Homo sapiens: one gene and its partners. The protein of the gene in region 2 interacts with the protein of the main gene of each other region in a pairwise test. Each region holds a gene or a part of one and is shown on either strand. Other genes may lie near its edges. The genes, in order: CDK16, YWHAE, KIAA0930, RICTOR, PLEKHA7, SORBS2 and PUM1.

What was found.
Region 1: the proteins of YWHAE (region 2) and CDK16 interact in binary tests that used the Homo sapiens proteins (3 or more experiments, as listed by UniProt).
Region 3: the proteins of YWHAE (region 2) and KIAA0930 interact in binary tests that used the Homo sapiens proteins (3 or more experiments, as listed by UniProt).
Region 4: the proteins of YWHAE (region 2) and RICTOR interact in binary tests that used the Homo sapiens proteins (3 or more experiments, as listed by UniProt).
Region 5: the proteins of YWHAE (region 2) and PLEKHA7 interact in binary tests that used the Homo sapiens proteins (3 or more experiments, as listed by UniProt).
Region 6: the proteins of YWHAE (region 2) and SORBS2 interact in binary tests that used the Homo sapiens proteins (3 or more experiments, as listed by UniProt).
Region 7: the proteins of YWHAE (region 2) and PUM1 interact in binary tests that used the Homo sapiens proteins (3 or more experiments, as listed by UniProt).

The regions. Positions count from the first base shown.
Region 1 is NC_000023.11:47,225,181-47,228,680, reverse strand, and holds part of CDK16 (cyclin-dependent kinase 16), read right to left. Parts: intron 2,910-3,500; coding exon 2,815-2,909; intron 2,717-2,814; coding exon 2,654-2,716; intron 2,403-2,653; coding exon 2,279-2,402; intron 2,099-2,278; coding exon 1,978-2,098; intron 1,870-1,977; coding exon 1,772-1,869; intron 1,688-1,771; coding exon 1,582-1,687; intron 1,501-1,581; coding exon 1,458-1,500; intron 1,303-1,457; coding exon 1,212-1,302; intron 115-1,211; coding exon 37-114; intron 1-36. UniProt on the Homo sapiens protein: Protein kinase that plays a role in vesicle-mediated transport processes and exocytosis. Regulates GH1 release by brain neurons. Phosphorylates NSF, and thereby regulates NSF oligomerization. Required for normal spermatogenesis.
Region 2 is NC_000017.11:1,393,723-1,397,222, reverse strand, and holds part of YWHAE (14-3-3 protein epsilon), read left to right. Parts: intron 1-3,500. UniProt on the Homo sapiens protein: Adapter protein implicated in the regulation of a large spectrum of both general and specialized signaling pathways. Binds to a large number of partners, usually by recognition of a phosphoserine or phosphothreonine motif.
Region 3 is NC_000022.11:45,230,895-45,234,394, forward strand, and holds part of KIAA0930 (uncharacterized protein KIAA0930), read right to left. Parts: intron 1-3,500.
Region 4 is NC_000005.10:38,952,400-38,955,899, reverse strand, and holds part of RICTOR (rapamycin-insensitive companion of mTOR), read left to right. Parts: intron 1-195; coding exon 196-305; intron 306-1,038; coding exon 1,039-1,126; intron 1,127-2,346; coding exon 2,347-2,439; intron 2,440-2,808; coding exon 2,809-2,915; intron 2,916-3,474; coding exon 3,475-3,500. UniProt on the Homo sapiens protein: Component of the mechanistic target of rapamycin complex 2 (mTORC2), which transduces signals from growth factors to pathways involved in proliferation, cytoskeletal organization, lipogenesis and anabolic output.
Region 5 is NC_000011.10:17,007,915-17,011,414, forward strand, and holds part of PLEKHA7 (pleckstrin homology domain-containing family A member 7), read right to left. Parts: intron 1-3,500. UniProt on the Homo sapiens protein: Required for zonula adherens biogenesis and maintenance. Acts via its interaction with CAMSAP3, which anchors microtubules at their minus-ends to zonula adherens, leading to the recruitment of KIFC3 kinesin to the junctional site.
Region 6 is NC_000004.12:185,588,695-185,592,194, reverse strand, and holds part of SORBS2 (sorbin and SH3 domain-containing protein 2), read left to right. Parts: intron 1-118; exon of another isoform or gene 119-290; intron 291-2,409; coding exon 2,410-2,516; intron 2,517-2,965; exon of another isoform or gene 2,966-3,041; intron 3,042-3,500. UniProt on the Homo sapiens protein: Adapter protein that plays a role in the assembling of signaling complexes, being a link between ABL kinases and actin cytoskeleton. Can form complex with ABL1 and CBL, thus promoting ubiquitination and degradation of ABL1.
Region 7 is NC_000001.11:30,950,718-30,954,217, forward strand, and holds part of PUM1 (pumilio homolog 1), read right to left. Parts: intron 3,265-3,500; coding exon 2,997-3,264; intron 1,647-2,996; coding exon 1,517-1,646; intron 1-1,516. UniProt on the Homo sapiens protein: Sequence-specific RNA-binding protein that acts as a post-transcriptional repressor by binding the 3'-UTR of mRNA targets.

The DNA of each region.
Region 1 (3,500 bases), on a different chromosome or scaffold from region 2:
GGTGGGGCAGGGAGGAAGACAAGGGGCTATACCTACCTGAGTCAGGCATCGACGAAGACCGAAGGCTGGCCTCCTTTTGTAGCTGAATCTCCTTTAGTGCAAATATGGAAGTAGCTACAGATGGGGGAGACATAGAAGTGGGGGATGACCCATGAGGTCATCTAGGACCAGCCCCATATGACCCCATGGGAAGAATTAGAAAAAGCTGCCCCTTCTCTGAGAGGCTTGACCTTTATCTGTCAAACAATTCCATACACAAACCAGCTACAACCAGGGAAGATGAAATATAGACTATTACATGACACAAAGAAATCATTATTAACTTTGTCAAGTGAATTATGGTATTGCAATTACCACCTGTTAAGTCTAGGTGATGGGTGGTGTTTGGGGTTTGCTTTATATATTAATCCAGTGGGAAGATAGGGAAAGTGAGCAAATGTTTTTTGTAGGTTTGATAATAATATTGTTGTTTTAAAAAAATCTTTTATAGGTATATGCTGAAATTATTTAAGGATAAATGCTATGATGTCTGGGATTGGATGTGATTCAAAATAATCAGAGAGAATATAGATAAAACCAGATTGACCATGAATTGATGACTCACTGGAGTACTTAGGGACTCATCATATTACTTTGACTAATATATAAATACATATATTTGAAAATATCCATATTAAAAAGTTTTTAAAAGCCAGATATAAAAAGAACATCACATGTGATTCTATTTCTATAAAGTACAAGGACAGAAAAAACTTATCCTTGCTGTTAGAGGTCAAAACAGTGGCCACCCTTTGGGAAGGGGCTGGGAATAACTGAAGGAGATGCAAGGGAGCTGGGGGTGGGGAGCTTTTAACATTCTGTTTCTTGACTTTTGTGCTAGTTACAAGGATGTGTTTCATTTATGAAAATTCATTGTATAGTATACTTATGATTTGTGCATTTTTTAGCACATGTAAGGAAATGTCTACTTTAAAAAAAGTAAAGTGCTATTGCATATATTTTTATGTATGTTTTAAATTTTTCATGAAAGGTAAAAGGAACTGAAAACTAAAAAATGTTTTCATAACAAATACAACCCATCACACACGTGAACAAGATGTCCCCCCACGTAGAGGTGGCACAGCCAGAATCCTACACAACCCGCCAGCTGGCCCCAGCAGTCCTGTTTCCCAGTCCCCACGCTGGCCGGTCCATTCCCCAGCTCCACTCACTGTCAGGAAGTTTGTGGATCCGCTCCCCCAGACTGAGGAAGAATGGATGTTTCATGGCATCCTCTGCGGAGATCCGATTTCGACCCTCAAACTGAGTGGGGGTGCGGGGAGGGGGATAGTATTGATATCTTCAACAAGTAGGTCTCTCTGCCCACCTCAGACCCTGCCCCTGGTTTGAGGGGGGGGGTCCCTGTTTCCCCACACTTGGAATCCCATACCCCCAAGGCTGACCCAAGGTGGTCTCACCTGCAACAGCTTGGTGAGGAGGTCGGCCCCGTCGCTATCAAGTCTGCCACAAGGACAAAGAGACCTGATTTAAAATGAGTTTGGACACTCTGGCCCCTAACGCCCACCCACCCACCAGCCTCACCGGGGTGCGTGGCTCAAAAGGGCCTCGGCTCGGTACTTGGGGTAGTTGTATGTCTTGAACTCCTCGTTGGACAGGATGCCTGGCCACGTCTCCTCAGTTGGGGTTCCTAGTAGGGAAGAGGAGTTATCCCAAACATTTCACAGGTCCTCCCCGTGTGTCTCCACAGCGCCTAGGGCCCATGCCTCCTCACCTAAGATACGGAAGATGAAGTGTAGCTGTTCCTCCACCGTGGAGCCCGGAAAGAGGGGACGGCCTGTGGCCATCTCATAGAAGATGCAGCCCACACCCCTGGGCAGGGAGGGCACAGTGAATAGAAAGGCAGCTGGCTGGGTGGCTGTTGTGACCAAGCCACCCCCTTTACCACATGGCCCCTGCCACACTTCCACCTGTCCTTACCACATGTCAATCTGAGTGGAGTAGTCCGTGGACCCAAGCAGGATGTCAGGGGGCCGGTACCACAGTGTCACCACCTCATTGGAGTATGTCTTTGTTGGGATTGACTTGGCTCGGGCCAGGCCTGGAAATCAGAGAAAGGACAGCTAGAATGAGGGAGTCATGGGCAAAGTCTCGGGGAGAGTGCAGTTGAGACTGAGGGTGTCCTAGGCAAAATCTGGCAAGGCTGAAGGGAAGTGAGACTAAGTGGTCATGGGAAAGTAGGAGGCTGGGGAGCCAATAAGAAAGGGGAGGCCAGTGGTACCAAAGTCAGCCAGCTTGAGCTCTCCCCTCTCGTTGATGAGCAGGTTCTGGGGCTTGAGGTCTCGGTGTAGCACCTTCTGCCGGTGGCAGTAGGCCAGGCCACGGAGCAGCTGGAACAGGAACAGCTGGGGACCCAGGAATGGCAGGCAGAGGTCAAAGACTATCCACTAGCCCGACCCCCAGCAGGCACTGCTCCCCTCCCAAACACAGACACTAGGCCCAGAGCCTTGTCACACAAAAGAGGACAGGGTCCCAGTGCCCTCCAAGGGCTCCTAGCAAAAAAAGCCAAAGGGAAAAGTCCGTTTCTGGGAGATTTGTGGGTTGGAGTGGGTGAGTGGGGGCCCCCTTGTGCCCCTGCTTCCTGCCCCACACCCACTTTCACGTTGTGCATGTTGATGATGTTCCCACAGTCATCCAGGTACTGCTTCAGGTCCTTGTCCTGAGGAAAGAAGAGGTGGTACAGGAATGAGGGTTACTTCCTATGGCTCCTGGCCTTCTCCTCACCTCCCCCTGGGACCTACTGCCACTCAACCTTACCAGGTACTCAAAGACAAGGGTGAGGGACTTCTCCGTGTGGATAATGTCATGTAGCGTAACGATGTTGGCGTGTTTGAGGTCCTTGAGCAGGGACACTGCAGGAAGCATGGGAGTGGGACAGGGGAAGAGTCAGGGTCCTACCCTCAGGACAGAGGTGAGGACAAGGACTAGAAAGGGACAAGCCCAGGTTTTCTTTCTTTCTCTAGACAGTTCAGGGTAATGCCTCGGAGCCACCAGCTCTAACCCGCCTCATGCCAGAAGAAAGTTGTGTCTCCATGTTGCAGATGTGGAAAATAAGACTCAGAGGAGAGTATGGAGCAAGAACCTGGGATTGCAGCCCCAGGCTCATGTGACACTAGATTTTCACAACCTGTTTTTGGTTTCTGGGAAGGGGCCTGGCTCCAACCCTCAGTACATAGGCCTGCAGCATCGCGTGAAATCGAATTTGCACACTAAATTTCAGTGCAATTCAAATTCATTCCATGTGATATTCTGACTAGAAATTGTTACAGTAAATAAACTGGTGAGCACTTTCAGGGGTGTTCTCAGAACCAAACCCTGGTTTGCAATTCATCTACCTTTTATCCAAATGGGAACAGATTCCTGGTTACCCTGATTATTACCTGGATATGTGGGTGACAGGCATTCCCATGAAAGCCAGAGTGTTTTGGGGGGTCTTAGAACCA
Region 2 (3,500 bases):
TAGTACAAGAAAGTGGGGAAGAAAGGCCGGGCGGGGTGGCTCACGCCTGTAATCCCAGCACCTTGGGAGGTCGAGGCGGGTGGATCACCTGAGGTCGGGAGTTCAAGACCAGCCTGGCCAACATGGTGAAACCCTGTCTCTACAAAAATAAAAAAATTATCCGGGCATAGCTACTGAGGAGGTTGAGGTGGAAGAATCACTTGAACCCGGGAGGTGAAGGTTGTAGTGAACCAGGATTATGGCATTACACTACAGCCTGGGCAACAGAGCGAGACTCTTGTCTCCAAAAAAAAAAAAAAGAGGCCAGGTGCGGTGGCTCATGCCTGTAATCCCAGTACTTTGGGAGGCCAAGGCGGGTGGATCACCTGAAGTCAGAAGTTCGAGACCAGCCTGACCAACATGGAGAAACCCCGTCTGTAGTAAAAATACAAAATTAGCCGGGGGTGGTGGGTGCCTGTAATCCCAGCTACTTGGGAGGCGGAGGCAGGAGAATCACTTGAACCCGGGAGGCCGAGGTTGCGGTGAGCCGAGATTGCGCCATTGCACTCCATCCTGGGCAACAGCAACAATAAAAAACGGGGAATATAGAGGGGAAAAGTTTACCCGTTTTTGGGGAGCAGAGGGGTAACATAAACTACATTTGGGCTTGTGGGGCTGTTGTTGGTTTTGTCCTTTCCTAGTCTCTTCCCTATCAAGATTGGCTTCATGGAAGGTAGGATGAAGTTTTGATGGTCATGTTGGATTCCCTAGGAATGCATCTGTTGAGTCATTTACTTGAGAGCTGTCTTTTTTTTCTTTTGAGACGGAGTCTCGCTCTGTCTCCCAGGCTTTATTGAAGTGGCACAATCTCGGCCCACTGCAACCTCCGCCTCCAGGGTTCAAGCGATTCTCCTGCCTCACCCTCCCGAGTAGCTGGGACTACAGGCATGTGCCACCATGCCATGCTAATTTTGTATTTCTTTTTTAGTAGAGACACGGTTTCTCCATGTTGGTCAGGCTGGTCTCGAACTCCCGACCTCAGGTGATCCGCCCACCTCAGTCTCCCAAAGTGCTGACATTAAGGACCTGAGCCACCGCGCCTGGTCAAGAGCTGTCTTTTTTTTGAGACGGAGTCTTGCTCTTGTCGCCCAGGCTGTAGTGCAATAGCGCGATCTCGGCTCACTGCAACCTCCATCCCCTGGGTTCAAGCGATTCTCCTGCCTCAGCCTCCAAGAGTAGCTGGGATTACAGGCATCCGCCACTATGCCAGGCTAATTTTGTATTTTTAGTAGAGATGGGGTTTCGCCATGTTGGCCAGGCTGATCTCGAACTCCTGACCTCAGGTGATCCGCCCGCCTCGGCCTCCCAGAGTGCTGGGGTTACAGGCGTGAGCCACTGAGCCCGCTGAGAGCTGTCCTTTTAAAACACCAGATCCTCATCTCTAGCTAGCTTATTCTGCTAGTTAGTGAAGAACAGGGAAGGGAGCATGTGTGGAATGAACTTTTTACTACGGTCTTGTTAGGAAAAAAATAGGTAGTAGTAAATTAACGTTGTTAATAAGTTTAGAAGTATTTAGATTAACTACCAGTTCTTTGACTGTAGGCCAGTAATTTTCCATTGCCGTTTCAGTTAATGGACTAACTTTCTGGAGTAAAGTTTATTTTTCTCCTTCTTAAATGCATAGACAGAACTGAGTAACGTAGTGTTAAAAATCCCTTCTACGACTGGGCTCTGTCCCCCAGGCTGGAGTGCAATGGCGTGGTCTTGGCTCACTGCAACCTCCGCCTCCCAGGTTCAAGCGGTTCTCCTGGCTCAGCCTCCCAAGTAGCTGGGACTACAGGCGCGTGCCACCACACTCGGCTAATTTTTTGTATTTTTAGTAGAGACGAGGTTTCACCATGTTGGCCAGGATGGTCTTTATCTCCTGATCTCAGGTGATCTGCCCACCTCAGCCTCCCAAACTGCTGGGATTACAGGTGTGAGCCACCGCACCCAGCCAATTTTTGTGTTTTTGGTAGAGACAGGGTTTTACCATGTTTGCCAGGCTGGTCTTGAACTCCTGACCTCAGGTGATCTGCCTGCCTCGGCCTCCCAAAGTGTTGGAATTACAGGCGTGAGCCACCACACCCGGCCTGATTGTTTTTTTTTTTCATGGATGACTGTAAGGGTGACTGATACTGCAGGCATATTTTTTCTTTATATTTCAAGAACACTGTGTACACAAACAGTAATGACAAGCATGGAGTAAAGGCTGCAGTTTTATTTTTATTTATTTTTTTGAGACAGTCTTGCTCTGTCACCTAGGGTGGAGTGTAGTGGTAGGATCTCGGCTCACTGCAGCCTCTGCCCCCTGGGTTCAAGCGATTCTCCTGCCTCTGCTTCCCGAGTAGCTGGGACTACAGGCGCCCGCCATCGCACCTGGCTAATTTTTGTATTTTTAGTAGAGATGGGGTTTCACCATGTTTGCCAGGCTGATCTCTGACTCCTGACCTCAGGTGATCCTCCCGCCTCAGCCTCCCAAAGGGCTAGCATTACAGGTATGAGCCACTGTACCTGGCCTAAATTTTTAATTTTTTAATGGGCACATATTAGGTGTATGTATTTATGGGAAGGCTAAATTAAAAAAAAATTTTTTTTTGAAACAGGGTCTTGCTTTGTGACCCAGGCTGAAGTGCAGTGTCGCCATTATAGCTTACTGCAGGCTCGACCTCCTGAGTTCCAGTGACCCTCCTGCCTCAGCTTCCCTAGTAGCTGGGACTGTTGCACCGGCCTAATTTTTGTGTTTTTTTTTTTTTTTTTTTTTTTTTGTGGATTTGAGGTCTCTATGTTGCCCAGGCTGGTCTTGAATTCCTGGACTCCCACCTTGGCCTCCCAAAGTGCTGGGATTACAGGTGTGAGTCACTGCTTCTGGCCTAAACTTTACATATGTGTATATGACATTATGCAGTACCTCAGTTCACAGCCCACGTTGACAAAAGTTTTTAATTTATGTAACAAGATTGAAGCAGGTAGAGCGTTACTCCCATTTTCTGGTTCAAGAAAGTGAGTTTGAGAGAGAGATTTTTTTATGATCATGTGGCTAATCAGTTATTAAATGGTAAAGCCAGAACTTAGTGTCTGCTGACCTTTAGATCGGTACACTTACTCTCAGCCACTCAAAAGACCTCTGTGAAGTAAGGTGGTGCCTTTCAGGGGAGTAGGGGGTGAGTAGCGTATGCTTGATGCTTGTTCTTTAACAATTCTAATAGCATCTACTTCACATCTTGATGTTTGTGATGACTGATATCCATGGTGAATTGTAGACAAAATCTTTTCACTTTCCTAAAGAAACCTGATGGTTTTTTTCAGAGATAAAATCCCATCTCAAGGCACAGCGAAATTAAAATGAGGTGAAGTTTAGGTACTCTCAGAATGTTTATTCGCATACAGATTCTTAAAAAACATGATTTATTGTAGGCAGATGTCACCTCTTTAAGCAAAAGAAAAAAACAACCAAAAAAAGAAAAGCCCCAGCCGGGTTC
Region 3 (3,500 bases), on a different chromosome or scaffold from region 2:
TATCCAGTCAGACTCCTCCACAATGACCCACTTCTTTATCAAACCTAGCATAGAAAATAAACAGGTTGAGGCTGGGCACGGTGCCTCAACATACCTGTAATCCCAGCACTTTGGGAGACTGAGGCAGATGGATCACCTGAGGCCAGGAGTTCAAGACCAGCCTGACCAACATGGTGAAACCCCATCTCTCTACTAAAAATACATAAAAATCAGCCAGGCATGGTGGTGGCCGCCTATAATCCCAGCTACTCAGGAAGCCGAGGCAGGAGAATCGCTTGAACCCAGGAGGCAGAGGTTGCAGTGAGCCAAGATCTGAGACTCCGTCTCAGAAAAAAAAAAAAAAAAAGAAAGAAAATACACAGGTTGAGCCCATTTCTTTGGATTTTCACTTCCTTATGAAGGCTCCTGTATCATGTAAAACTTACACTAAATTATACTTTTCTCTCTTCTGCCTTTTGTTATAGGAACCTCAGCCATGAACCTAAGATGGGAAGAAAGATAGTTTTCACCTCCTACATTGGCAGTGGGGCCTGAAGATCCGAGGGATGTCTGGGCTTGTCCCAGCGATGTGTGTGAACAGGATACAGAGGCAGGGGTGGGAAGCCAGAGGCATGAACAATCAGCCTGTACCTGCCTGCCACCACCCCCTCCCCAGGGAGGGCCAAGCTCCCAAGAGTCAGATCAACCCTAATTCAGCACTGCATTTCCAGGGTTCAATATATATGACCTCCACAAATGACACAATGGTGACTACAAATACATAAAAATGTACACTCAGACAGGGGTAAAAACTGCAGAGAAGGTAAGAAATTAACAGGCACACCAGGCGCAGTGGCTTATGCCTGTAATCCCAGCACTTTGGGAGGCCGAGGCAGGTGGATCACAAGGTCAGGAGATCAAGACCATCCTAACATGGTGAAACCCCGTCTCTACTAAAAATACGAAAAATTAGCTGGTGTGGTGGCGGGTGCCTGTAGTCCCAGCTACTCGGGAGGCTGAGGCAGGAGAATGGCGTGAACCTGGGAGGCGGAGCTTGCAGTGAGCCGAGATCGCGCCACTGCACTACAGCCTGGGTGACAGAGCGAGACTCCCTCTCAAAACAAACAAACAAAATTAACAGGCACAAGGGTCTTGAATGGCTGTTGTTGCTGGAAAGGTGCCTATGAAGCAAGGTTTCAGAAAGAACCAGAAGGGAGAAGCCTAGTCCAAGGCCACCTCACCCCAGGTCCACCTATCACTCTGAGGCCTGGTCCCCCTCTGTAAATGGGACAACACCCCTCCTGCCTTCTGCTCAGCACTGCTGTGAGGACACACGAGGGTGTGCAGGGCAGCACTTCTCTATTATAATTACATGGATAATCCACACGCTTCATAACATGTGGATTTGTATTCTGCTTTTCTCCCTTTCTCTGCCATAAGTGTTGCTCCAAGTGTGAAAAGCATTTTTCAAGATTCAAAGCACATCCCAATACAAAGCCCTTTTACATTAAAGATAATGGACACGTGGAGTAAGGGAACTCTGCCTGTTGTTCACCTGCCTCGGTCTCCTCACTTGCACCACGGGGCAAGAGGCAGCACTGGTGAGATCAGGCAGCCAGCCCTCCTGATTCTTCACCCTGTTTGAGACAGTCGGGGTCCACTCTGAGTCTCCCCTGTCTGTGTCAGTGATAGGGCTAGGCTGGTTGAATTCTGGGACTCTCTCCATCCCAGCTCCCCCAGGACGGGCTGTGACCCAGAGGGCATTCTGCTGCCTCAGCCGAAACTGGGACACTGGGAGCAAACTGCCCCCCTACCTTGGGAGGGTAGAGCTCATCAGGCACAGGAAGCCTGGAGTCACATCTTCTCCCAGGAGAATGCCCATCCTGCAGAGTGGGCTGGGTGGGGACCGGCTCCAGGGGAGGCTGGCCCACCGCCTCTCCATGTGGTGGGGCTGAGCCAGGGCTCTGTATGTGACCTCAGCCTCCGTTTCCCTGATGTGCAGAGTTCGGCTTTGACTCAGGGGCACAGGTATCTCTGGGGGTGAGGAAGGGACCCCGTGGAGTGTTAATTTTCCCACCCACCCCCGCCAGGTGTCAATGTCGATGACATTAAGGTTCATGCTGTTGGGGCTCAGGTGGATCCAAGGACAGGTGGCTGGGAGCAGGCCAGATCAGGAAGGTGGAGGAAGGCATCACAGCCAGTCCCTCCTGCTTCTGAGCCTCAGTGGCCCCATCTATCACATGGGGGCAGGGGTGGTAAACAGACAGCCCAGTGGCCACCAACTCAGGCTGACACACCCAGACAGAGGGAACGAATGAATTACACCACAGACTCCAGGGCCCCCCAGGAGGACTTTCACTCAGATGCCCAGGTCGGGGGAAGGAATGGGCATTTTGTTTTAAAGTTCCCCAGGGTTCTGTGCTCTGGACACGGTGTGGTACAGGGTGGGCAGACTGAGGCAGGCGAGGTGTTCTAAGGAGTGGAGGCTGAGGTTCAAGTGGAACGGGTAAGCACAGGTGCTAGGCCGAGTTCCCCAGCACAGGCCACGCAGGGCATGCAGCCCCACTTCCAAGGAGTCGGTAGGCCTGGGTGGGAAAGCTCCCCTCAGCACAGCAGCCACAGCCATAAAGGCCCAGAGGCGGGCATCACCTGGAAAGTGGGAAATCACATCCAGTCAAAACACGCTTCTACTTCAGCTGCAGAACAGCCCGGGTGCCCACCCGGGTGGCAGGACCTTCACTAGGCTGACTCACCAGGGGACCTGGTGGCTGCTCTCAGGACGCTGGGAGGGTGGGCAGGACAGCCGGGTTTGGGTGATAGGCAGTGAGCTCTGCCCTCTTAGGAAGCTGAGTGCACCAGACCCAAGCTGCTGGAAATGACCGAGGGAAGGTCTACTCAACCCTCTGAGCCTCTGCTTCATCCCTGTAAGACACGGGCTAACTCCTACCTGACAGGGGTTATGATATTAGATGACGTATTGTTTACAAGTCCCGCTTGGCCCTGCCTAGCCCAGCACCGCATGCAGGAGGGATCAGAGGTCCAGAGGGACAAGGGCCTCCAGAAGACAGAAGAGCGGGGCTGGGGCTGCACAGGAGCTGCAGCTATGCACCAGGGCTTCCCCAATCCCACAGAACCCTTAGCGGGAGAGCCTGGACTGGGGCTTGCAGAGCTCCTGTCTACAGCAGTGACAGGGAGAGGCTGGTTGAATTCTGAGACCCGGGGGCCTTGGCAGAGGCCGGGCACATGTACTGACCCTGAGGGGCAAACGTCTCTGTTGTCTCTGAGGCCCGGCAAGCTGGGGTGGCCTGCAGTGAGGGGTGACCAGGAGTGGAAGGTCAGTGTGCGTGTGGGTGCCGTTGGGGAGCTGGCCTGGCCTGTGCTCAGGGCTCAGCTCCCAGGCCTCATGGTCCTCCGATGGGGAAGAGGGGGCCTCTGCTTCCTGCTCGGGGAAGACAAGCCTGAAACGCCAGGGGGAGAGCTCTCAGGTAAGAAGACAAGGTTGGAGGATCACAGACTGGCAA
Region 4 (3,500 bases), on a different chromosome or scaffold from region 2:
GTGAGGAAAATGGCAGATATGGGGGTCATTAGTATATAGTACTAGTTGAAACCTGAGCCAAAAGCTTATGGATATGATAGAACATTTGCATTCATAATACCTTGATCTGTCTACCCTTTGCTAAGTATCTGACATATTTTAAATTTAGTGACTCATTGTGATACTATGTGCAATTAAAACAATATTATCCTCTAGGAATACAACTCCAAATATGTTGACTTGATTGAGGAACAACTCAATGAAGCACTTACTACTTACCGGAAGCCTGTTGATGGTGATAACTATGTTCGTCGGAGTAACCAAAGGTGCGTACCCAGTTATCAGATTTAAAACTAGTTCATCATAAATTATTTTTAACATTTCTGAGTTTTTGTATATTCTGCTTCTAACATGATATAGGAAGAATCTTAATGCGCAGCATTAATTGCTCAAAAATTCAGTGGCATTCATGGCATGTTGAATATCCTTACTGATAACGCATTCACATATACTCCATGCTGGCACCCCAGTCTGTATTTCTAGGCCTAGATTCTCTTACCAGTACTTTGAGCTCTGATAAACTGTTACAGGTTGAACATCACTTATCCAAAATGATGAAATGTTTCGCATTTCAGATTTTTTCAGATTTGGAATATTTGCATATATATAACGAGATACCTTGGGAATGGTACCCAAGTCTAAACATGAAATTAATCTGTTTCATATACGCCTTATACACGTAGCCTAAACATAATTTTATGCAGTGTTATAAGTAATTTTCTGTATGAAATAGTTTGCATTAAATACTAATGTGTGGAATTTTCCACTTACAGTGTCATGTCAGTGCTCAAAAAGTTTTGGATTTTGGATCATTTTGGATTAGGGAAGCCCAGCCTATATTTTACCTGAGAAATCCTCATTCCTTGTTACTTTCATATTTTTATTTATGCTGGAGAGTTGTATCTAATTTTATTTATCAAACATTTATTAAAATTCTTTTGTTCTAATTAGCATATTTAAATTAGCCAAGAGATATAGTAATCATCTTTATTATACTAGATTACAGCGTCCTCACGTCTACCTGCCTATACACCTTTATGGACAACTAGTACACCATAAAACAGGCTGCCATTTGTTGGAAGTACAGGTAAAAACATAATTCACTTATTTTAAGTAGCTACAATAGTAAAAAAAAAACAAAATCTTAACATTGCTAAAATATTACCTTTGCAAAAACTTCTCAAAAGCTTTAATATCAGTGGTGTAATTGCTTTTAAATTCATCTATTTTGTAATTGACTTAGGCATTCTATATTTATTAACCTGAGAAATATTAATGGCCTTGCAATGCATTAACTGACTTGTGTATGACTTTTTGAATAACTAACTTGTTATGTAGAGTAAGCAATCCAATGAAGATCTGAGTTCTTTTTTTAGAGTTTAGTGGAGAAATTCAGATCTCCAAAAACGTACTGAAAAACCGAGTTTTTCTTCCACTCATTGGGAAATTAAACTGAACCTAATACAGATTAAGTTATCCTTGTTGAGCAATAAATTGAAAGTTGCTGGTTGTGAGCACATTTTATTCTCGCGTACTTCATGGAATGTTAACAAGCATAGGCAAGCAGTTGTTCTTTGAGTTATAATATGTACACCGCATTTATGGTTGTGAATATGTCATGCAACTGTTTCCAATAAATGTAACGTTTCTCTTATTTTAGAAATAAAGTTATAGGAATATTTGTTTTTGTGACAGAACAATAGTTATTTAACAATTTAGTTCCCGATTGTATCAGTATTCATCTCAAGAGCACAAAGTTTTGCATAAATGTACTCTATAGTTTCATGTGTTTTTATATTACGTCTGTGAAAACTGTTGGGACAAGTATTTTCATATTAACATTTGAAAATTTCACTAAAAATTTAAATGATTTTCTCAGTGTTACTACTTACATAGTATGATAAAACCTAAGCACTAATTTACTTTCTGTTTTAAAGAATAAGTATGATTATTTAGTAATACTAAGTGCCAAGTACTTTGGTAAGCACTGTATGTGCAATAATTTATTAAATCTTGAAACCTTATGATGCAAATGTTATTATCACTCTTCTAGATATTAGGAAATCAAAGGATGAGGAGATGAAGTAACTTGCCCAAGGCCATGCAGTTAATAAGTGATAATTCTAGAATGTGAATTCAGAACCCCTGCCCTATGCTGCTTCTCAAGAAATTTTACATAAAATTATTTAGAATTTAAATATGCAAAAATGACAAAAAACAAACGTTATACTGGTTTTATGATGCAATAATAATATATTAAATACATAAATATATTATTACTCATGGTATTTTTTTTTCTTTCTCCAGAATATTATTACAGAACTCTGTCGTAATGTTCGTACACCAGATTTGGATAAGTGGGAAGAAATTAAAAAACTGAAAGCATCTCTTTGGGCCTTGGTTTGTAATAAACACTTCTGTAAGATCTTCGCAATTTTTAGATTTTTAAGTTTTTTTTTCATTTATACTAAATAGATAAATATTTTCTTTGGAACTACTTATTAGATTAATATTTAAGACTGGATTGTTCCTGCCAATATAAGTGTATTATCTCTATGTTGAAGAATAGATGGTTGAACTATTGGTTTCATGACTTTTGTTTTGTTGCTAAGACAACTAGAATTAATTCATGCCTAATGTTTTGTACTTGAGGAGGCTTTTACATTTTTTCTCTCTCAGAGATGAGGTTAAATTTGTTTCTTGGTAGCTTTCCAAATCTTTTGAAAGAGTGACTCTTATATTTGATGTAAGTGATTTCTTTTCTTTCAGGGAAATATCGGCTCATCAAATTGGGGTCTCAATTTGCTACAGGAAGAAAACGTGATTCCAGATATACTAAAACTTGCAAAACAGTGTGAAGTTCTTTCCATCAGAGGGTAGGTCATTTAACTCAGAAATCTTTCTAATGTAGACGTTGTTATTCACAAATGGATGTTAGGGGAAAGTATTTTATGATTAAGTGCAATGCATAACTGTTAATCCACTGAAAGTTCTAATGATACAAGATTATTAACTGTATTAAGTTAAACATCTAAACGAACTCCTTGTTTACTACTATAATTTGATTTTTATTATATTGAAGTTTACCTTGTAGGTAACAGGTAAGGCATAGTGTTGTACAGATACTCCAGTATTCCTGTAACCCAGCTGTTCCAGATTTATACTAGAAAAGCTAATATACCTTTTTTGCTCATGTTGCATTGTGTTCTTTTTATTTTGTTGTAATTACTATTTTTATTGGGAAGGTTTGCTTGTTTTTTATTGCTGCTAATTTATTCCTGACTAGTCTTAATAAGTTTTTTTTTTTCCACAAACGCAACCATTTTGGTGGGTTTTAGAGAAAGTTCAAAGTATGTATAGCAAATTAATCTGTGGTGGCTTTAAGAAATCTCAGCTTGGAATTATAACTGTTTTTACTGCATCTTTTATATACAGGACCTGTGTATATGTACTTGGGCTCA
Region 5 (3,500 bases), on a different chromosome or scaffold from region 2:
CCATTAAAAGTAATAGCACTAACCGCAATTACATTTGCACCAAGCTAATACTTTTTCCTTCTTTTTCAATAAGGAGCCTTGCATTTTCATTTTACACTGAGGCTCTGCAAATTATGTAGCCAGTCCTGCCCCTAGGACCTGCTTCAGGTCCTAGGGGAGGGGAAAGTTAGCCTTACTCCAAGCCTCAGAAATGTCTTTCCCAGAGTCTAGCTGTCCTCACTTGGGGACAGGCACCCACAAGAAGAAAGTACCTACACAGGGTGGCTCCACACAACCCCAAAGCTAAAACTGAGAAACCTGAAGCTAGAAAGGGTCTTGTGCAATCAGCTGGTTCCTGCCAGCACCCTTGTGCCAAGTCACAGATGATGCCAAGGGCCCAGCAGCCAGGGAAGGAAGACAGCCTAGTCCAGTAGCCAACAGGTATCCCAGTCCCAGATGCAGAGCAATAAGGATATGAAATGAAGACGCAGAGGAGGCCGTTTGAGCCTCCACCAGCCAGCTTCCTGCTTTGAGCATTGTTCTCAACAGCAAGCGACTGTATCCAAGAAGCCTGGGTCTAGGCACCAGCCTTGACAGGCCTGTTCCTGGCTGTTGAGCTTCTCTCACCTTGCTTATTCTCCTCCACCCCAATCTCCTTCCCAGTAAGGAGTTTTCCAAGACCTGGAATACCTAGAAAACTCATTGGGTCTCTTTAAAACACTGATTCCTCAAGAGATGCCAAGTGCCTACTCAGCTCCCAGCCCTGGGCTGGGTGCCTAAGTCACAGAAGTGGGGAATAAGATGCCTGCCTTCAAGGAACAGCCTTGGCACAGGCAAGGTGGCTGAGCCCCTCTTCTCTGCCATCTCCTCATTGCCTCATGACCTATTTAATGCCTGCTGTAGGGGGAACGGAATTCACAAGGTTCCATGAAACCCCTGAAGAGCAGCCCAGTGTAATACTCTAACTCCCATGGCCTCTTCTAGAAACTTCTCCCTCATAGGTCCCATGTTTGAAAAAGCTGTGTCTGCCAAATTGTATTTACTAATAATCAATGTCTTCAATTTCTTACTAATCAGAGACATGTACCACCCCTAATCAACATAGGAGACCAGGGGGTACTGCCCTTCCAAAGTACCTCAATCCCCAGAAAAAGCAAAGATGGAGTCTGGCCCCATAAGCCTTGGGGAAGCCTAACTCAGAGCAATGGCATATGGGCATTCATCTCCTTCAAGATGCATGGCCTGGGGTAGGAGCTACCACTACTACTGTGGCTATCACATGAGGGACCAAAGACCTATGTTCCAGTCCCAGCTCTAACACTTCAGCAAAATCATTGAACCTTCATGGACCTGAGTTTCATCATCTGAAGAATGGGGATGATTCTTCCCCTCCTGCCTCCAGGGGCTGCTATAAGGATCAAATAAGAAAAGACACAAGAAAAAAAACCATCTGCTATAGGAATGTCCAGGATTACGGCAAGATTCTATGTCTGTAAAACGAAACTAGTAGTAGTTCCTACCTCATCAAACTATTGTGAGAATTAAATCAATGACAGTTACAGAACAGTTCCTAGCATTTTTCAAAGACCCAAAAAGATTAGGCTGTTATATAATTATTACTACTATTATTGCTACTTCTGTTAATGACACTATTATCACAATTACTATTATACCTTGCTACCCAGCTAAGGGATTCATAGTAGAGAAGTGCTAGAGTACAAAAAGTCTTCGTTTTATTTATTTATTTATTTATTTATTTACAGACAGGGTCTCACTCTGTCATCCAGGCTGGAGTACAGTATCACAATCATAGCTCATGGTAAACTCAGACTCCTGGGCTCAAGCAATCCTCACACTTAAGCCTCTCAAGTTGCTAGGATTACAGGAGCATACCACCATTAATTTTTTCATTTTTTGTACAGATGAGGCCTCTCCGTGTTGCCCAGGCTGATCTTGAACTCCTGGCCTCAAGTGATCCCCTCGCCTCCGCCTCCCAAAGTGTGGAATTGCAGGCATGAGCCACTATACCCAGCCAAAAAATCTTTTTAAAGGGGTTATCAACATCACTTAGTCTAGAACTGGGAGAACCAACAGTAGATTTCTTATACATTTTGTCCCTCATTAATGCAAAATTGAACAAAAAGTGCAGAAATCAAAACAAAAATTCACCTGCCTAACCTCAAGCTTTTCTGCTTCAAGAAATGGACTCCGAGGCCAGGCACAGTGGCTCATGCCTGTAATCCGAGCACTTTGGGAGGCTGAGGCAGGCGGATCACTTCAGGTCAGGAGTTTGAGACCAGCCTGGCCAACATGGTGAAACCCTGTCTCTACTAAAAATGCAAAAATTAGCCAGTCATGGTTGTGCACACCTGTAGTCCCAGCTACTTAGGGGGTGGCCGAGGCATGAGAATCACTTGAACCCAAGAGGCAGAGGTTGCAGTGAGCTGAGATCGTGCCACTGCACTCCAGCCTGGGCGACAGAGCAAAGCTGTCTTTAAAAAAAAAAAGAAAGAAAAAGAAAAGAAAGAAAAGAAATGGACTCTGGAGAGTATTAAAACATTTGCTGGCCAGGCATGGTGGCCTGCATTTGTAGTTCCAGCTACTTGGGAGGCTGAAGTGAGAGGATCACTTGGCCCCAGGAGTTCAAGGCTGCAGTGAGCTATGATTGCACCACTGCACTCCAGACTAGGAGACAGAGGAAGATTCTGTTTCTTAAAATTTTTTCAAAAATTAAAATGTTTTAATCTGCTAAATATGAGGAGCAACTGAATACATCCTGTAAAACCTCACACAACTTTCCTGTGCAAGGAGCCATTAGGAAAAATAAAATCAGCCATGTCAATGCTTTGTCGCTCTCACTTTATGAGCCAGATTAGAGGAGGCTCCTGCCCTCAACACAAAAATCAAACATTCAGAAATGCTCACGGCAAAGCTAAGAAATCAGACAACAGTAAAACATTTTTCATGTGGGGGGCGGGGGATGAGGGAGAGAACAATTACTCCCAAAACCCTTAAGTCTCTCAAAAAATTGTCACAGAAGGACGTCAGAAGTACAATCACCTGCCACAGGGCCCTGCCTTTGAGGGTAGGGAACACTGTCACACATTGCTTTTTCTAGGCCTGGGAGGAGTCAGCCAAGGCCCTGGGGGCACAGGAGCTCACTGTAGGAAAATCATTAGGGACCTCACAGACAAGTTACCATGGAAGAGTCAGCAAAGGTGTGGAAGGCTGTGCTCCAGCCTCCAGAGTCCCACACGCGGCCTCACACACCCAGCCCAAGGCTGCACCTGGTACTTTGGGACACTTGCAGCCCTTCCTCCCGCCAAATGAATGATGGGCCCTGCCCCTGGGTGACGCTAGTGAGATGCAGGCCATGGATCCCATCCCTCTCACCTTCTTAGAAACACTGCTCCAGCAACTGCCCCGTCTCTTTACTGCAGCATCGACTTCTTCCTCTCAGTGGGATCATTCCCATCAAAACAAACATGCTGTACAATCTCCCACCAAAAAAAAGAACCCTC
Region 6 (3,500 bases), on a different chromosome or scaffold from region 2:
GAAATATGTTCTAGAAAAAGTTGCAAGTTATCGAGAGGGCTTCCAGTCTGGCTCAGCATTTCCTGTTTAAAAGACACCTTTCTTTTTGAGGCATCCTTACCCCACCACCATCACTCACCTCACCAACACATCTTTCACAACAGCATTTTTTAACATTGGATTTGTCTTCATTTCCCATTGTGCAACACTGGCTTTGAAAGCCAGGAGAGGCAGGAGGATTTCCTGAAGGTGTGTTTACGTTTCCATAAAACTCCGTGGGTTTTCTTTTGTTTTGTTTTTGTTTCTGTGGTCTAATTAAACCAGAATGGTAAATAAATTTGGACAAACATGCTGGCTTTCATCAGACAAAAATGAAGCAGGAGTCTGTGCCAATTTTGTTGCGTTAGCTCTGAGACCTTGAGATTCTTTCCAGCAGCTGAGGTTTGCAGCCTTAGGTAACCGGTCTCCATGAGTGGGTGGAGATGAGCCTGGGCAGGGTTCAAGCCTGAGAAGCTCAATAAAAGAATCAGTTTTCCCAAAGTGAGAAATGCCGTGTGTATCCATCAAAACAGCAGCCCAGGAACCACCATCTCTCTCAAATGTGAAACTGGAAAAGGGACCGTGAACTTTCCCCACAGATACACAAAAGATACCACCCCTTCACCTGAGCAGCCTCCAAATCAAATTCTTTACACAAGCAACAAAATAAATGGACTACCCCTAGCAAAGCTGGCCACATGCAAACATCCAAATCAGGTGACGTTTCTGTATTCCACACCTGCCTGTCTTTTTGGCCACTACTCTGGGATGCTAGCTGCCTTTCTCTGCCCTTCCCCATAATCACAAACCCCTCTCTCAAGAAAAGGCCTCAGAAGCCCATGCTCAAAAGGATATAAGTGGCTGTAAGGTCTACTGGAAGGATGAAGTTTTAACAGGAGAAGAAGCCTCTAATGTTGAAATTTCAGGCTTTGGTGCCAGGCCAGGGAAAACAATATTTTCTAGGGGATGTTGTTAGGCATTCTCTGAAGCCAACTCTATCCAGCTCCCCCAGTCCAAATGCTGGATGAACGGGGGGAAGCCAGTAGGTCACTGTTGCTTATTAATGACATAAGATTTGAGTTTAAATGATAGAATAGTTTTGTTCTACCAAAATATTATTTTCTGACTCATAAAGTAATTAAAAATAAATCATTCTTGTTCCGGAGCGGTAGTCAAGATTATCAACTTTTTTAAGTTGGCATGAAAAAATCTAAAATACCCTAGAAAGTGGTAATTATTTTCTCACATTAGCAGAATGACATGACTGTTACAGAAAGCAGCAGAAACAAATTCCCAATTTTTAAAAACCCCCTCACAGTACTGGTAATATTTTAGTACTATTATGAAGAAGTTTTCATGTTAACTGCCTATCAAATTCTTCTTGACCTTCTCAGCTACAGTAATTTCGCCTTCATTTTCCAAAAACACCAGCCCATGTTACTATTTATTATAATGTATGGTGTTTTCTTACCACAAATTCAGTGTCTGAATTCATTATTGATCAATTTCCACCACAGTATATGCTGTCAAAGAATTCAGGCCGGGAAAGGAAAGTGATAGCATTCTATCAATAATTCTTTTTTATATAAAATTATTTCAAGAGAGAGTTTTAAAATCAAATACAATTTTTCTGGGACTCATTTTAAAAAGAGACTTATGTCCATAGTCTGCTTGAAATGGAATCAGTAATAACTGCACATAGAATACATCTACTCAACTTCATAGGCTAATTACATCAAATCTTCCAATTCTACATCCTCAGAAAACACTGATCCAAACCATAACATTAAACTGATCTAAAGAATTCCTCTTAGTAAAAAAAATAATTTTCCTTTGTATAGTAATTCACACAGAGTGATTAAAAAGACATGTCTGACACATTTTGTCTATCTCCATTTAGAACCTTTGAAAATTCAATTCTCAAGCCCCCATTATTTGCTTCTGATTATGGCTAGCTAAAATTGTGATTCCTTCTTGTTTTTAAACAGTTAAATAATACAAATATCACTTATTTTATATTTTGTACTATTATTTAATGTCTAAATGATAGACGTTAGATGGCTGGACAACTGAAATGCGGGTCTGACTTATACATGTTGACATATTTTAATCCAATTTATGAATGTTACAATTTTCATGGATATTCCTCGTGAGTTTCAAAATGTTGTTAGAGTGTTCTAATGCCTGTGAAGATCTACATATTGCTATGTACCTGCTTACCAGGCTTGTACCATCCAATAGAATGCTATTTACATGCTTACCAGGCTTGTACCACCCAACAGAATGTTGTTAAGAATAGGAATGTTAAAGGAAGAATGAATATTGTTCTATCTTCTATATTTCATGAAGGTGTCAAGATGTTTTTAAACACATTCCCTTGTCCTGTTTAAGGTTTCAGGCTCTGTATAACTATACTCCCAGGAATGAAGATGAGCTGGAGCTCAGAGAAAGTGATGTCATTGATGTCATGGAAAAGTGTGATGACGGCTGGTTTGTGGGTATGTGCGCTTCTTCCTCAGGCACCTTCGGCTATTTTGTAATTTGCTTGAGTTTGCTCACTCCCGTGGTTTGCTGTGATGGCCGAGCTTCCTTTGAATTCGTAATGCCTTTGATCTTTCAGACATTCATATGCACAATGTAATCCCAAGGCTATTGCATTTTTAATATAGTTTAGTATTCACTGCTTCAGCTATGTGTGATTTTCTGCGAGCTTTATTTCCAACTCAACTGAGAGAAGACAATTTCTTTAAATAGCAAAAACCAGGAAAGATTGAGATCTAAGAACAACAACAACAAATGGTCCCCAGAAGAGAAATATCAACGCTCTGTGCTGTGGAAAATGTTAGTTGTCCACAGTGAGAATCTAATTTCAGAGGGAGTGAGATTAAGTGAACAGCTCTCCCGTTTCCTAGGTCTGACGTAGATGCCCGAACATTCAGTGACTCACCTTAACTTTAGTTTGTGGTGGAAGCAGAGAGACGTTCCATTCTTCCCACTTAAAAGGCAACTTCATCTTTACCATCCTAAAAAAAAAGACGAGAGGTCTTCTGGGAAAACATTTGTAGACAAAAGTATTTTACACTGGGCCACAGAAAGAGGTGAAAAGGAAACACAGGCTGCAGGGCAGAGAATGGAAGAGAGGAAAGGTGAGAGGAGAGGAGGGCTCACTCTAGACATCCATCGGTGGCAAAATCATGAAAGAATTGAGGCCCTGGTGCGGCCACAAGCCTCTGATTTTATTTCCATTAAAAGAAGAAAAAAAGGCCGGGTGCGGTGGCTCATGCCTGTAATTCTAGCACTTTGGGAGGCCGAGGCGGGTGGATTACCTGAGGCCAGGAGTTCGAGGCCAGCCTGGTCAACATGGTGAAACCCCGTATCTACCAAAAGTACAATAATCAGCTGGGCTTGGTGGCAGGTGCCTGTAATCCCAGCCACTCAGGAGGCTAAGGCAGGAGAATTGCTTGAACCCAAGAGGCAGAGGT
Region 7 (3,500 bases), on a different chromosome or scaffold from region 2:
GGCATGGTGGCACGCTCCTGTTAACTCCAGCTACTCCGGAGGCTGAGGCAGGAGAATCGCTTGAACCCAGGCGGCAGAGGTTACAGTGAGCTGAGATAGCACCACTACACTCCAGCCTGCCCAATGGAGCAAGACTGTGTGTCAAAAAAAAGAATCCTACACTCTTACTGCCAAAGCACACATGGACACACTGTTTTGAAATAGTATTCTACATCATTAAGAGAATTGATTTTTTTTTCTCCTATTTACACAAGGTAACAGAGTTGGGAGGGGAAAAATCAGTAGAATCAAGAAGTGAGGCTACACAATGTTAAAATTCTACTTAGAATGATTTTCCATCCTTGGCTTATTATTTTCATTTCAATCACATAATCGTGAGATTGGAGGAGACTTTATGAATTCTCAGCCCATCCAACCTCCTCATTCTCCCAAGGGAAACTAAGATCCAGAGAAGTTCTCAAGCTTGGTCCAAATCATATGGCTATAATCCATTGTACATTTTGTCACCCCAAGGTGCATCAGCCTCCAGAACTAGAAAGCTCAGTATTTTTATATATGTGACAAAACGGCAGTGCAAAGTCATTCTAAAATCAAAAATACAAAAGTCATGTTTAGATTGGTTTCTTAGTCCAAAGCTGAAGAATTCAGGGTGAAAAAACATAAGTCTTCATGAAAAAACTTGGGAAGGTAAAACTTGAGTACGTCAGTTTTTCATCTTCATACAAATCAAACAGGATGAGATGTTAAGACATTTACAAATTTGTTTTGTGGTAGGTAATGTGCAGAATTCCAGCATTTTCCTCCCCATACCAGACTCCTCCTCATCTCGAAGTTTTGTGCCATTCTGCATCTACACCTTAGGGTTGCCAATACCAGATAATAAGGGCTACAATGGTAAGCAAAAAAGTCCCTGCCTCTCTGAAATTTTACCTCACTAGAGGGAAAAGACATCAACCTAACAATCTCATTCTTTCCAAAGACAATGATACAACAAGTGAACATTATTCAAATTAACAGAAGTAAAACAAGAAATCAAGGCCAAACGATCAGCCAAGAAGCAGCATTTAACAATTCTTGTGACCCTAGCTGATAATGAAACATACTGGAGTCGGTGTCCAAAGACAATTCTCTAAGAACCTTAGAAAAATTTGTTTTTGGCAATATTTTATTGTGATCCTGCTAAAACTACTTTACAAGGATTATTTCCTCCTTAAGTGACACGTTTTGTGAAACTATTATAACAATCTGAAATAATGTGCTGGGTCCTAAATGGGGACACCAGTTTTCGAAACACATTTCCAAAATAGATTGGCATTATCTGCTCGGATATTTAAACCATACAGAATAGATAGACTGCTGCTAATGAATTGGAAAAACACTAAAAACCTCTTCAAAAAGACCACACACCCTTCATTCTGAGGACTGGAATGGGACTGCTATGCTTAAAAAGGCTAATGAAAATCAAAATGCTCTGCAGATTCTCTTAAGTCAAAGGATAGAAAGAACAAAGGCTTACTTCAAAGAACTTCTGAATGACGTAATTACCAAACACATCCACCATGAGTTGGTAGGCAGCCTGGAGGATTTCATTGAAGACAAGCTGGCGCTCAGCTGGTGTGGCACGCTCCAGTTTCAGCTGAATGAATCTGAAGTACAAAGTAAAAAGGGCAATCACAGCACTGAAGGAAGACCTGGAGATACATCAGTGTACCTCGGTTTATAGACTGCATCCGTTCTGAAACATGTGAGTGAGCATGTGTGCACACACATGCACACAATAAACCAAACTTTATTTGAATGAATCACTTGAACTCCCTTGAAGAGTTTTTAAATAGAGGAAGAAGGTCCTAACTTAATTGAGCTTTGAAAATTACATATAAATGTTGGCACATTTCATTCCAGTAGGGCATGCATACTGAATCTTATTTATGTGCAAGGTGGGAGGGAAGATGAAAGCGGGGGGGGCGGGGGGGGGGCGGGAGGGGCAGGGGTGCAGGAAGAGAGGAGGGGTGGAGGGAGACATAACACAACATGTACCCTACTTGACTTTTTTCCTTTAGAAACCAGCCTCACATCAATGAACTCAAAGCTTACAGTCCTTACTATATTCTTTAACTTATTTTCATATAAAACAGTACTCATCAGCTACTCGGGAGGCTGAAGCAGGAGAATGGCGTGAACCCGGGAGGCAGAGCTTGCAATGAGCCAAGATTGCGCCACTGCACTCCAGCCTGGGCGACAGAGCAAGACTCTGTCTCAAAAAAACAAAACAAAACAAAACAAAACAAAAAAACAAAAACAAAACAGTATTCATTATCTTCTGAAGTAGTAACAGTCTGCCTTTTTTTAGTCCAAATGACCACTATCAGGAAAATCATGTTGCCTCTGAATCTAGCCTATAGAATTCAAATATGAGAAATTTTGGCCCAGTAGCAAGCTGGCAGAACTTAAGGAGGAGGTAGCTTCTGTAGAAACTGTTTCACTGGACACAGTATCAGAGAAAGAAACAGAAACAGAAATGGGAAAGAAGGATGGGTGTTGTCACCATAATTATGCTCTATCCCCAGGACCAGATTCGCTTTCTGTGAAGCCCACTGCAGCAGCCCAACAGGAAGGGGTAAACCAAACCAAATTCTGTCTTCTATAATAGTTTCTTCTCTCGTCTCTACATAGACTGTCACTTCTACAGAGTGGAACAACAAAGAAAGGTGGTAGAGCTGTCTTACTCCTCAGCACCCTAGATCAAACTTGTATTTGAATAGCAACTCTTTGAGAGCAAAAGATTCTTCATAATGCTTAAAGCAGCCGAAGTGTATGTATGTCTTTGTGTTCATGTTTGTTTCTTAAATCCCTATGAAATAATGTGATGCAAACTAAGAGGCACGCTTTTAAAAAATTACTATATGGCAATTTATTTAAGTAGATACCCATCTGAGCCAAGACAGTTAAGGCATTACAATTTCGGGTACCTTAAAGTGCCAAAGCCAAGTACTCACCTGGACCCATGCTGGTCTTGGGAAAATTCCATTATATGTCCAGCAATCTCCCGCAGTTGTAAATTGGGGTACCGGTTGTTTCGAAAATCTTCCAAAAGCCTGCTCCTGCCAGAAGGCATGACATCAGACATTCCATATCGCAAACGAGAGGAAGAGAAAAGAGTGCTGCTCGGGCTGAAGAGGCTGGAGGCGCTGCTTGCACTGCGGTACTTGGCTTCAGCGCCTGGAGCAGCAGAGATGTATCTTCCACTGCCATTCGTGAGTCCTCCTGTTGGTTACAGAACAGGATAACTTAAGACCACTCTTCAGCAACTTCATTCAAGAGAGAAAAAAGCATTCCCACACCCGAAAGCCTGCACCATTTCTGATTTCTTCAATGCTGTTGTTTTTGTGTCAAGACAATTCTATTAGCGTCATGACTTTCGTGGGTCAACTCAACAACCTGGAAGGAAACTTTTGCACAAAGATTGAGAAGGGAATGCTTTTACCGTTGATGGTAGACTG